3 separate regions of the Homo sapiens genome follow, and all the other regions are linked to region 3. The links come from fine-mapping of genetic effects on gene expression. A gene starts in region 3. Each other region holds a variant in brackets. All regions are shown on one strand. Distances are from middle to middle. Region 1 overlaps YME1L1 (YME1 like 1 ATPase). Region 2 has its middle 27 kb from the start of LINC02673. Region 3 holds the start of ACBD5 (acyl-CoA binding domain containing 5).

What was found.
Region 1: its variant is fine-mapped to the expression of ACBD5 in whole blood (TOPMed, PIP 0.98).
Region 2: its variant is fine-mapped to the expression of ACBD5 in esophagus mucosa (GTEx, PIP 0.99).

Annotation. Positions count from the first base shown.
Region 1 is chr10:27,149,914-27,154,158 of GRCh38, reverse strand. The region is part of intron 1 of YME1L1 (YME1 like 1 ATPase); the gene reads left to right. Among named protein-coding and RNA genes, the nearest start is that of YME1L1, 2.3 kb to the left of the region's middle. The variant A/G (reference allele first, on the strand shown) is at 2,201.
Region 2 is chr10:27,314,647-27,318,891 of GRCh38, reverse strand. It overlaps the pseudogene ODAD2P1 and the pseudogene RNU6-666P. Among named protein-coding and RNA genes, the nearest start is that of LINC02673, 27 kb to the left of the region's middle. The variant A/CA (reference allele first, on the strand shown) is at 1,664.
Region 3 is chr10:27,238,941-27,243,185 of GRCh38, reverse strand. ACBD5 (acyl-CoA binding domain containing 5) reads left to right here and starts at 2,389. Exons shown (of 13, transcript NM_145698.5): 1 at 2,389-2,512; 2 at 2,702-2,867. The coding sequence starts at 2,498. RefSeq lists enhancers at 678-787, 918-1,167, 2,618-2,877, 2,835-3,337 and a silencer at 2,388-2,497.

The DNA.
Region 1 (4,245 bases), 89 kb after region 3:
CATTTTTTTTCCTCCCGCCCTGCCCGTGGCTGTTTGCAAATTGCGCTCGTGGAAGCGATTTCTCAGAAGGGACTCTAGAAATGAAGTGATGTACTCAATGCGAATCCCAGGATTGAGGAGTGGATCAGGGGACGACGCTGAGAGTGGGCCGGAGACTTCAGTGCTGACGATGAAGCTGTTGAGGGCAGAGGCGGGATGTGAGCTCAGTGATAGAGAGAGACCCTGGCTTATCGAACTGATTGCGTGGAATTTCTGCTAGAGAATCCGTCCGGCATTGTTCAGTGTCCGGCGTTCTGGGGTGGGAAAATGTCTGTACCATACATTAAAGGGAGCAGGTAATGTTCCCTTTTTTCCGACTTTCCAGTGGCTTTAGTGTTCACAGCCCCTATCCCCTGCTCTTTATTTCCTTTTAAATGGAATTTAAATTTAACCCAAACATGGTATAATATTTCGGATGGCCAGCCATGCAAGTTTTTTTCTCATTTTGACCAGAAGTAACTAAAATGTGTATTTCCGAGTCGTAAACTGTTTGCAGTTAAAATTTTGATTCAGCCTCATCCTCATCGTTTTGTAAAACAAAAGGTAGTGAAGAGAAAAATGATTTCAAGGGTTTTCATTACGCTCTTGGGCAATCACTTGTGACAATGTTTTATTCTTGCTTCATTCCAGTCTCTTTTTTTGATGGTAACATTTTAATAGATTTTTTGAGAGTTCCTACAGTTTTGCAAAGAAATAGTTTTTAAAACATTGAGTTTTTTTAAAACATAATTTTTAAGAAAATCGACACTCTTAGGTTCTTGATTTAAGCATATGATTGTGTTCCTTTGTGTAACTTTTACTCCCCCTCATTTTAAGAATTTTTAATTTTTTGTGCTAGTACTGGCTAACAAACTGAAGCAGCTGCTTGTTATTGGGCATCAGTTATGTACCAGGTGAGCAAAGCAAATGTGGAATCTTCTCTTAATATTGATATGAAGTAAATATGAGTAGGACTTAGCAAGGTGAAGAGTGAACAGGTATCACAGGCATACAGAAAAATACCTGGAGGTCCTGAGTTAGGAAAGGGTTTAGCAGGTTGAAGGAACAAAAATAAGGCTAGTGTGGCTAGAACATAGTAGTTAAAGGGGGTAGTGACAGAAGAGGTTGGAGAAAAGACTTGAGGCAGATCATACAGGGAGTAAAGGATATATTATGGCTGATTTCATTTTAAGTGTATTGGGAACCATTGAAAGTTTTAAAACATGATTAGATTTTCATTTTTAAGAGATGACTGGCTTTTGCTATATGGAGAATAGGAGAGGGCAAGAGTGGAAGATGTTATCAGCTAAAAATACCCACCCACCCCCCAATTAAAGCTGTTGCAGTGGTTATGGAAAGAAGAGAATGAGATATATTTTGAAGAAAGTGGAATTGCATGAGAGATCAGAGAGATGATGGGGAGAGGTGTTTCTGGGTTTGATCAGATGAATGCATTGAAGGTGCTATTTACCAAGATGACAGTGTCTGGAGAAGTCCTAGTAATTGTTTGAAAAAGAAGTCTGACATGGCCTATTGAATATGGTATTGAAGTTTTTGAAACTCAACTCTTTGCCTTAGTTCACATCAAGAGGCCTGATTTTAGGAGAATTTACCATCAACTGAATGGACAGTTAGTAGTATGTGATGTTGGTAGAGATGATAAAGGGATTTTTATGTACCCTAGGCAGTCTTAACAGGGCTCAAATATAGTGAGGACTCTCAGGCATTTCTTGCTTTGAAGGATGGTAACACATTTGGAATTCCTTGTTGCTTAATTGGTTGAATACACTTGAAATTAAATGGTAAAAAGGAAGACACAGAAAATGAACTTTTTCATTGAGAAGAGCTCAACTCTAAATCCTTTTGTGAAAGAAAAGAGATATAACTAATTCAAATAAAAGAGATATAACTAATTCAAATAAATCTTTTCAAAGAGGTAGAAAATATGTATCTTGAAATGATTTGATTATTTTTAAAGTTTCAAAAGAAGTTACTGTTTATTTTTTTTTCTTTTTACTGCCCCCAGGCTGTAAGGAACTTACTGTTTCTTTCTGACTCTAAAAATGATACATTGCTTCACTTGACTAGCCTTAAAACAAATCCATGTTTTTTTGCTAAAAATGCTGAAAGTATAAATAAGATCGCCCATAATCTCATTACTCAGGGATACGTATCTTAGACT[A/G]AATTCTTTCACACATTTTTTTCTATAAACAAACACGGGTATGCATACTTTTTTTTATTTTAATTTTTTTTTTTTTTTAAGATGGAGTCTCGCTCTGTCGCCCAGGCTGGAGTGCAGTGGCGCGATCTCCGCTCACTGCAAGCTCCGCCTCCCAGGTTCACGCCATTCTCCTGCCTCAGCCTCCCAAGTAGCTGGGACCACAGGCGCCCGCCACCACGCCCGGCTAATTTTTTGTATTTTTAGTAGAGATGGGGTTTCACCGTGTTAGCCAGGATGGTCTCCATCCCCTGACCTTGTGATCCGTCCGCCTCGGCCTCCCAGAGTGCTGGGATTACAGGCGTGAGCCACCGCGCCCCCACGGGTATGCATACTTAAGGTAGTTTTACGGTCAGCTTTATTCCTTAGTATGTCACGAATTTATTTGTGTATCAATATCCATGGGATGAGAAGTCTGGAATTTTGAGTCAGATTCTAAATCTTTGTTGTCTTCATCTATTAAATGGTCTGTACCCACAATAATGGCGTTAGTCCATTGATGAGGGCAGAGCCCTCCTGAACTAAATGCCTCTTAAAGGTCCCACCTCTTAACAGGATTACAGTGGCAACTAAGTTTGCCATTGTTCTCAACTCAAACTTGAGTTTTGAAGGAGATAAACACTGGAATTTTTACTGGAAGTGGGCCCTGATCCAGACCCCAAGAGAGGGTTGTTGGATCTCGCACAAGAATTCGAGAGAGTCGCCAGGCGCGGGGACTCACGCATGTAATCCCAGCACTTTGGGAGGCAGAGGCGAGCGGATCACGAGGTCAGGAGATCAAGATCCTGGCTAACATGGTGAAACTCCATCTCTACTAAAAATACAAAAAAATAGCTGGGTGTGGTGGCCTGCGCCTGTAGTCCCAGCTACTCGGGAGGCTGAGGCAGGAGAATCACTCGAACCCAGGAGGCGGTGGTTGCAGTGAGCCGAGATTGCATCACTGCACTCCAGTCTGGGCGACAAAGCGAGATTCCATCTCAAAAAAAAAAAAAAAAAAAAAAAGGCGAGAGAGTCTATAAAGTGAAAGCAAGTTTATTAAGAAGGTAAAGGAGTAAAGAATGGGGTACTCCATAGGCAGAGGAGCTGCTTGGGCTTGTCCACGAAGGATACCTACAGTTAGTTATTTCTTGATTTTATGCTAAACAATGTGTGATTATTCATAAGTTTTCAGGGAAAGGGGGACCCCTAAGGTTCCTCCCCTTTTTAGACCACATAGGGTAACTTCTTGATGTTGCCATGGCATTTTTAAACTGTCATGGTCTGGTGGGAGTGTCTTTTAGCATGCTAATGCATTATAATTAGCACATAATGAGCAGTGAGGACTAGCAGAAGTCACTCTCCTCTCCATCTTAGTTTTGGTGGGATTTGGCTGGCTTCCTTACTACAACCTGTTTTATCATCACGGTCTTTATGACCTGTATCTTGTGCCCACACCCTATCTCATCCTGTAACTTAGAATGCCTAACCTCCTGGGAATGCAACCCAGTAGGTCTCAGCCTCATTTACCCTCATTTTGCCCCTACTCCAGATGGAGTCACTCTGGTTCAAAAGTCTCTGACAGAACTGTAACAAGAAGTATAATTGTTACTCATTATTATAGCTGTTTGAGGATTAAATGGGATGATAGAAGTAAAGCCTGTAGTACTAAACCTGGTATATAATAAGAACCCATTTAATGTATTCATTTACTCAACAAATATTTATTAAGTAAATTTTTTTTTTTCTTGAGACAGGGTCTTGCCATGTCATTCAGGCTGGAGTGTGGTGGCATGATAGCTCACTGCAGCTTCAACTTCCTGGGCTCAAGTGTTTTTTTTGTTTTCATTTTTATTTATTTATTTATTTTGAGATGGAGTTTTGCTCTTGTCACCCAGGCTGGAATGCAATGGCATGATCTTGGCTCACTGCAACCTCCGCCTCCCAGGTTCGAGTGATTCTCCTGCCTCTGCCTCCCAAGTATCTGGGATTACAGGCGCCCAACACCATTCCTGGCCAATTTTTTTGTATTT
Region 2 (4,245 bases), 76 kb before region 3:
ACACAATGAGCACCTAAGTACTCAATAAATATTTAATAAATATTTGTTGAATGCATGAACTCTGCAGGGAAAAACAGGTACAAACCTGATAGAGACAAGGGTGGGAGCAAGATGGCTTAATGAATATCATTTTATATCACTTTGATTTTGAACTATATAACTGTATTACCAATATATTTTTAAATTAAGGAAACCATAGATGGAATGTAAAATTTTTATCTTTATTGAAACAATATTTTTGCTACCGGGGTTAATAAAATCACTATATACCTTGACTTCCATCTGGAATCTTGTTGTACTGAAAACAGGGTCAATTTTAGATTGGAGGAGTTGGGGGAGAGGAAGGGTAGGAAGAGAAATATATTTTGTCTTCCAGCAAATACATTAGAGACACAGAAATGTTTAAAATGTTGTCCCTGGCTTCCAGGAGCTCAATGACTAGTAGTTGGATCAATCAGTATTTAACGTTCAATATAATACTAATGTACTCAGAATATTATTCTTGCTTATTCATATATATACATATGATATTTCAATTTAAGCAATTATAAACATTGCAAATTTTTCTATTTATTCTTTATTGCTGCATTAAAAAAAAAGCAACCATGTTCCTTTTTCTCTTCAGTCGAAATTCAGAATAAGAGACCACGCAGTAGATAGACAGAGATTAAAATATCAGCTTACTACGGATAAAAGCTAGCCTGGAGAATATGGCTCAGGCGGTAGATAAAGAGGCATGATGATATGTTACATGCAAATGAATATCAATCAACTGTTGGAGCAAAATAAAAACTGTACTAACAGTTATGCAAAGATTCAGAGAATATATCACCTATCCATCCTGTTTGGGCAAAACACTTAAGAAAATAATCAAGACAGGGACTTGAAGATGGAACCATGAAAAAAGGGTGGTGGTGAGCAGAGAAATGGGGGAGTGTCAAAGGCAAAGACACTTTAAACAGAACAGATACACTTCAAGGGAAAAACTAATAATCTGAAGTTCAAAATATTAAACTATCTCAGCAAAATCTAGCAGCTACGTAACTAGATGCAAAACATAAAAACATTCTAAAGGTCTCATCTATTGGGATGAAGGGGAAAGCAATGGACAAATAGAATCTTAGTGAGGAAAAAATCGAAAAACTTGTTTTCCCATGAAAGTGGCAAATAAAGAAGATAACTATGAATGGAATTGTAGAATTGTTTTTCAGTCAAGTTTCCAAATCAACAGCAGTGTGGGGTATCGGGGAAAAGAGTGGATTTCAAATCAGAAAAAGATAAGAAAGTCTAGGGGAGGCCAACAGTAAAATAAAGATGAAGCACAATGTAAGACAGAAGGAATAAATCACATATATCAATTGTTATAATAAATGTGATCAGTCTGCGTACTTCTATTAGGACGGAAACTATCACATTAATCAGAATATGTTTATACCATGTTTGTTTTTATAAGAAGAACACTTTAAAACAAATAAAGATAGGTAGATAAAGGTAAAAAAAAGGTGAGAACAAAGCAAACTCAACAAAAAGAAAGCACGAATGGCAATATTAATGTCAGGTGAATTGAAATCAATAGTTATAAGTATAAATCAGAATAAATAGAATCATTGTTAAGATAAAAGCTATTTTTTGAAGAAAATATAAGTAAAAAATCTGTATGTAC[A/CA]ATAATACACAGTAAAATGTGTACATTTTAAACAATTAAAAAAAAAACTTGGATAAAAATATAATTAAAGTAGGAGCTTTTAATACACATCTCTTAAGAACCTAACTTATCTCTGTAATCCCAGCATTTTGGGAGGCCAAGGCAGGCAGATCACCTGAGGTCAGGGGTTTGAGACCAGCCTGGCCCACATGGTGAAACCCCGTCTTACCAAAAGTACAAAAAAATTAGCTGGGCATGGTGGCAGGTGCCTGTAATCCCAGCTACTCGGGAGGCTGAGGCAGGAGAATAGCTTGAACCTGGGAGGCGGAGACTGCAGTGAGTAGAGATTGCACCACTGCACTCCAGGCTGGGTGACAGAGCGAGACTCCGTCTCAAAAAAAAAAAAAAAAAAAAAAAATTGTTTTACTTATTTATACAAAAGTATTATATAAAATTTTAGGGACCATAATTAAAAACATATTTTTTCAGATAATATTTTCTGAGATTATAAACTACCTATAACTAATTCTGAATTATAAACTAAAAAATTGAATCAAAGCTATATATATATATGTACACACACACATATGTATATATGTAAACACATCCTATTTCCACATTGCTTTTTTAATTGCTATTGTATGATCAACATTTCCATAACCTTATGGTAGCACCACCAAGAGTAGTTTACTATCAGAAGTCTTACCTGGATTGCTATTTTGAGGATTTTTAGATATCTTTTGTTTATATTCCAAAAGACATTGATGAATGCTATGTATAAAAATGTAATAAATAAAATTACTATTTTAACATTTACCAAATTTTCCAAATTTATTAAGTTCTTAGACTATTTCAGACAATATCAGAGCTAACAGCAGAACATTACTTATTCCAGAGACTTTAAGTTTGTAAGCTCTAGGAACTTATTAAGCTGCTAATAAAAGAAGAAAGAAAGTAAGATGAAATACTCATGAATTGAGGTCAGCATAATTCCGTAAATTAACTAGAGTTAGCTTGGCATAATGGAAAATGTCCTTAATTCAGAATAAGTCCTAGTGTGGTAACCAACAGGTATTTTTTCTTGAACAAGTTGCTTGTTAGGCTCAACGTCTTCTAAAAATGAGAATTTTAGAGCCTGATTTCACTAGCTTATTATAAAGATTCAACATGATAATGTTTTTAAAATGCTCGAATAAATAGTGAAGCAATGAAATACCTTGTTGTTCAACCTTATTGCTGAAACTATTTTAAAATTCCCAATAAAATCCAATGTTTTGGCCTGGTGCAGTGGCTCATGCCTGTGATGCAAGCACTTTAGGATGCTGAGACAGGATGACAACTTGAGCCCAGAAATTCAAGACCAGCCTGGGCAACATAGGGATACCCTGTCTCTACAAAACATAAATAAATTTCAAAAAAAAGTTTCTTCGTAGGTTATAATGTTCAAAAGTTGCACTTTTCTGTTATTAACTCCTACTTTTGGTTATTAGATGTTCTATTCTTTGTGGCTTGTAATTCAAGGCATCTAAGCTATTTTATAATTTGTAATGAAATTTATTTATAAATATATGAATTCATTAAATTGGATAACCTGATTAGCCTCTATTACTGAGCTCATCAATCACACCAAGGGCAGAAAACTAATAGATGTCAGCATCTGGCTTGGACTATTACTACTCTTTATCTACCTCCTGAAACTCTGAATCAACAAATCTTTGTTAGAATGATGCTTAGTCACTATGCTCATTTCCAGCTGCTGTGGAAGAAAAAACGCTACCTTTATTTTTTGTAAGTTCCACAAGGAAGATGCAAGTTGGTATTTCCTCATTTCTGAGATGCACTAACAGCATATTGCACACAAGATCCTATGTGTTACCACATCTCATTTCATATATCACCTTGCATCAATATTTCTTGTATGAAAATCACAACTGCAATACTGGGTGACAACCATTTTGCTTTGACTCACACCATTTCCTTGGAGCTAGTTAGAAAGTAGTCACATGCCCTTTTGGAAACTGCAAGAAATATACAACACTTCACAGATCTGTGTGTCATCCTCGTGCAGGGGCCATGCTGATCTTCTCAAAGTTGTTTCAATTTTACTATATGTACTGCTGATGCCAGCATGAATCCCTACTTTTATACCTGAAGACTGATCAGTGATGGATGAGGCTTAGCTCTGTTAAATCTAACCAACTTACCTGGGGTTTTGTGAAGTCTATTGAATGGCTTCATGGTGATGCAGAATTTGAAAATATTTTAAAAACTTGAGGTAGAGATGCAGGTAGCATGGGAGATTTTTACTTTTAGGAAAAAAAGAATCACTTGAGGGGACAAGCACAAGTTGGAACCCACTGTAACTTGAGAAAGATGACATGGGATCTTCCAGAATAAGATGAGACCTTCCACTACCTACAAAATGGTGCTATACAGATTATAAAGGTCCAGGGATATAGATGTGGTAACAAAATAAAAAGGATCTCTAATTTCTTCCTGTAATTATTTCAACCTGACTTACAGTTTCCAACTATCACAACTAATATTTGCTAGAGAAAACAGAAAAAAGCCACTCAAAGGATAACTTACCATGAAGGTCTAGG
Region 3 (4,245 bases):
CAATCTGTCCATCCACTCACACATCACTTAAGAGACAGAAAGAAACTTCATTCTCTCTGTGTGTGTGTGCGCGTGTGTGTGTGTGTGTGTGTGAAGTCATTTCCTTTTCCTCTCTCCCCCGCCAAGGCACCTGCTCAGCACACTTTCCTTTTCGCTTTTTCCTCCTGGGCAGTGCTCATCCTCCCTGCCTGATTCAGATTCTTCCCTGGTGCTGCTGTCCAATATTTATTGCTCAGCTAAGTATCAAAAAAGAGGAAATACAAAAATCTTGAAGGCTACTACATGCTAGGTAATTTCACATACTTTATTGGAGAAAACGAAATTTTTCAGAGCTTGTTTCCTGACGCAGTCACACAGTGAACTAGCGGCAAATCCAAGATAGACTTTGGGCCAAGATAACCCTAAACCCGTTCATTTTCCTCAATCCCACCAGAAATCACCCTAAAGAGGTTTATTTATTTAAAAAAAAAATTGAAACATCTATAGGTCACATTGATTATTTCCCATTAAAAATGAAAAGGGTTCTATTAAATCCAATAAGGGGGAAATGAATATTCCTTCAATTTAGGTTTGTTCCTTTTATGGAATAAAGTAATAACGCGTTAGATAAGTGTCACTGCTTTTTAGCCATTCATACATTACCATTTGGAATTCTTTAGTATTTACAACCCAAAGTTGGTTCTCTAATCTATTTCTCATCTTTGTGTGATAATTTTACAAAATGTCCTCTTCATTTTTGAAGACAAAGAAACGTGAAACGTCCACGATCAAATGATTTCCCCCTGTGTTGTATTAGACAAACCCGAAGCAAAGCCTCCGGAGGGCGCTGGAGAAGCCGCAGCTGCAGACACCGCGACAATCTCAAGACACTTAAGCTGGAAGCGAATGTGGCATTTCAAAGAGGCACGAAATGCAACCGGCTAGGAAGGAGGGATTCCGCCGCACGGCTGCGGCGTCCGCGGGACAGAGACGCCTAACCGGAAGAGCTAGCAGGAACGCCGGACGCCGCTGGGACGTGTCCGGAAGCGCGGCGGAACGGCGGACTACATTTCCCATAAGCCCGCGGGGCAGGGCGAGGGGCGGGCGTCGGGGACATTACCGGACAGGCCTTGTCCGGCAATACCAAGGTAAATGCCGGCGCCGCGGCTCAGAGGGAAGAGTAACTTACGATCTGCGCCTAGATTTTTCCTAGTAACCCTCCTAACCCATCCCCCTAACTGACAAAAACGACTCTTCCATCCGGGAGACTTTGGGATTTCCGGGCTACAGGACTCCACCCCCCACAACCTAGTCAGTCCCACCACCAACGTTCGGCCTGGGGCACTTCCCAAATGCCTAAGGACGCAGGGGGTTGCGCTAGTAAGTTGAAGGCCCAGGGCACCCCCTTTCTAGGGTTGACGACCCGTAAAGACTCCTCATTGGCCCCGCCCTCTACGCCCAGTATCCTATTTTTATTTTTTTTTTTAATTATTGGTTTCTTAAATAGAGCCAGGGTATCGCCATGTTGCCAGGCTCGTCTTGAACTCCTGGCCTCAAGCAATCCTCCCCACTCGACCTCTCAAAGTATCGAGATTACAGGCGTGAGCCACTGTGCCCGGCCGTCCCCATGCCCAGTCTCCTATTAAATCCCGCTGGAGGTGCCTGGCTCCCTGGGGCTGGGTGGAAAGGGTAGTGTAGGGGAAGTTGCCCTCCGTCCCAGCCCAGTTTAGGAGCCGGCGACCTCCTCTCTCCTTCGGCTGCTCCTCGGACGTTCTTGGCTCAGGGCAGCGAAAACTGTCGAAGACCTGCGGGCCAGGGACTGCTGAGCACCTCCATCCAAGGTCCCCAATGCTTTTCTCCATCTACCCTTTAGAGTGGGTGTCACGATTGCCACTGGAAAGGCTAAGTGACTTGCCCTAGGTCACATAATTTAAATGGCAGAACTGGAGTTTCTCACAGAACCTGTCCCGACTTAAAGCCCTTTGCTTAGGCCCCATTTAACTTCCTCAAACCTTAACTTAGGAGAGTGCAGGCGCTGGGGACCGCAGAGTCATTTTTGTTGCCCAGCGGTGCCGTCGCGTGCAGCTTTGGGCCCAGGTGCAGAACCCAACCGCGCATCCCCAGCGCGCACTTCGTCCACCCGGCTGCCAGAGCGGACACATCGGTCCGGCCTCGGTTTCCCCCTTCTGAACAAAAGCGCGCACAGTGTGCTCCCCGCACCAAGCCGGGACTGTGGCCCCCTTTCCCCGCTTCCCGGACCCTCCTCTGGGGACAGACGGACCGCGCGCGTCCTTGCCGCGGCGGCGGGTCGGGTGGGTGGGGTTTGCTGCACTGCTGCTGCGGCGGCGGCGGCGCCAGTGGGTCCTCCGGTGACTCTGGGGCGGGGCTGTGGGGAGGGCACGGACTGACAGACGGACTCCGGCGGAATGGGGGGTGTGGCTGCTCCGCCAGGGTCCCCAGGGTGGGAGAGCGGCTCCGCGGCCACCGATGCCCGGACCCCCTCTGTCTTCTGCTAGACATGCTCTTCCTCTCGGTGAGTTGTTTTGCTGTCGTCGCGGGCCGGATTCGTGGCCTTAGTCACGCCCCGGGGGAGGAGGAAGGAGCCGGGCCGCTTCGATCTGTGTGGCCTGGATAGGGCAGGGCAAAGGGGAACTGACCCGCTTCGCTCCCGGGCCTCCTCCTTTTGGGGCATGTTGATCCGCGGCTGCGCTCCATGTTCCAGTTTCATGCAGGCTCTTGGGAAAGCTGGTGCTGCTGCTGCCTGATTCCCGCCGACAGACCTTGGGACCGGGGCCAACACTGGCAGCTGGAGATGGCGGACACGAGATCCGTGCACGAGACTAGGTTTGAGGCGGCCGTGAAGGTGATCCAGAGTTTGCCGAAGAATGGTACGTGCGCTGGGCCCCGGCTGTAGACGCCTCCTGCAGAGAGCCCCAAAGCCCCCTTTCACTTTCTGGTTCTAGTGTTGTTTATTTAGCCTTTTTTTCTGTGTAGGAGCCATGTAGTGGAAGGGGAGCTATTGAATATGAATTAATTACCTTTTGATCTTCCAAACCGGAGAAAAATCTAATATCCAGATTTTAAGTACTTCATATTGTTGAAAACAAAAGTCTTGTCACTTAATGACTGCGGATTTGGGTGTGTTAAAAAATAAATCCGGGCCGGGCGCGGTGGCTCAAGCCTGTAATCCCAACACTTTGGGAGGCCGAGGTGGATGGATCACCTGAGGTCAGGAGTTCAAGACCAGCCTGACCAATATGGTGAAACCCCGTCTCTACTAAAAAATACGAAAATTAGCCAGGCTTCGTGGCGTGCGCCTGTAGTCCCAGCTACTCGGGAGGCTGAGACAGGGAAATTGCTTGAACCCGGGAGGCAGAGGTTGCAGTGACCCGATATCGTGCCACTGCACTCCAGCCTGGGCGACAGAGCCAGACTCCATCTCAAACAAACAAACAAACAAACAAACAAAAATCTAGGCTGGGGATGCCTAATGCCACACACTCATAGGGTCTACCAGCTTAAGCGTTTTGAAAACTTTTGATATGAAGGGACAGAAAAGAAAGAATAACTATAGTCAATTGTGAAGTAATTTCTATTTTAATAAATATATATTTTCTACCTTTTTATTTGCTATTCCATTGTATAATGTTCTTTTTTATACTCATATTGGACCTTCTTTGCAGCTGGTGAGAAAAAAGTCATTCCAGTGGCTGATCTCCTTCTTGTATTTAATGTGCTATTTCTCTGGCTGCTTTTTAGATTTCTTTTCTATCTTCGGTTTTCAGCAATTTGACTAGTAGATGTGGTTTTTCTTCATATTAACCCTGTTCACGATTTGCAGAGCTTTTTGAATTTGTAATTTTATGTCATAGACCAATGTGAAGTTTTTGGCCATTAAATATTTTTCTCTGTTCTAAATGCAGAGTCTTAGAAGCAAGACGTACTTTTCAATTCATATCTTTCTACATTATATGAATTATATTTCACAATAAACATATTTATTTCTTTAGAGATGGAGTTCCGCTCTTGTTGCCCAGGCTGAAGTGCAATGGTACAATCTCAGCTCACCTCAACCCCCACCTCCCAGGTTCAAGCGATTCTTCTGCCTCAGCTTACCCAGCAGCTGGGATTACACCCGTGCGTCACCATGCCCGGCTAATTTTGTATTTTTAGTAGAGACGGGGTTTCTCCATGTTGGTCAGGCTGGTATTGAACTCCCGACCTCAGGTGATCTGCCCTCCTGGGCCACCCAAAGTGCTGGGATTA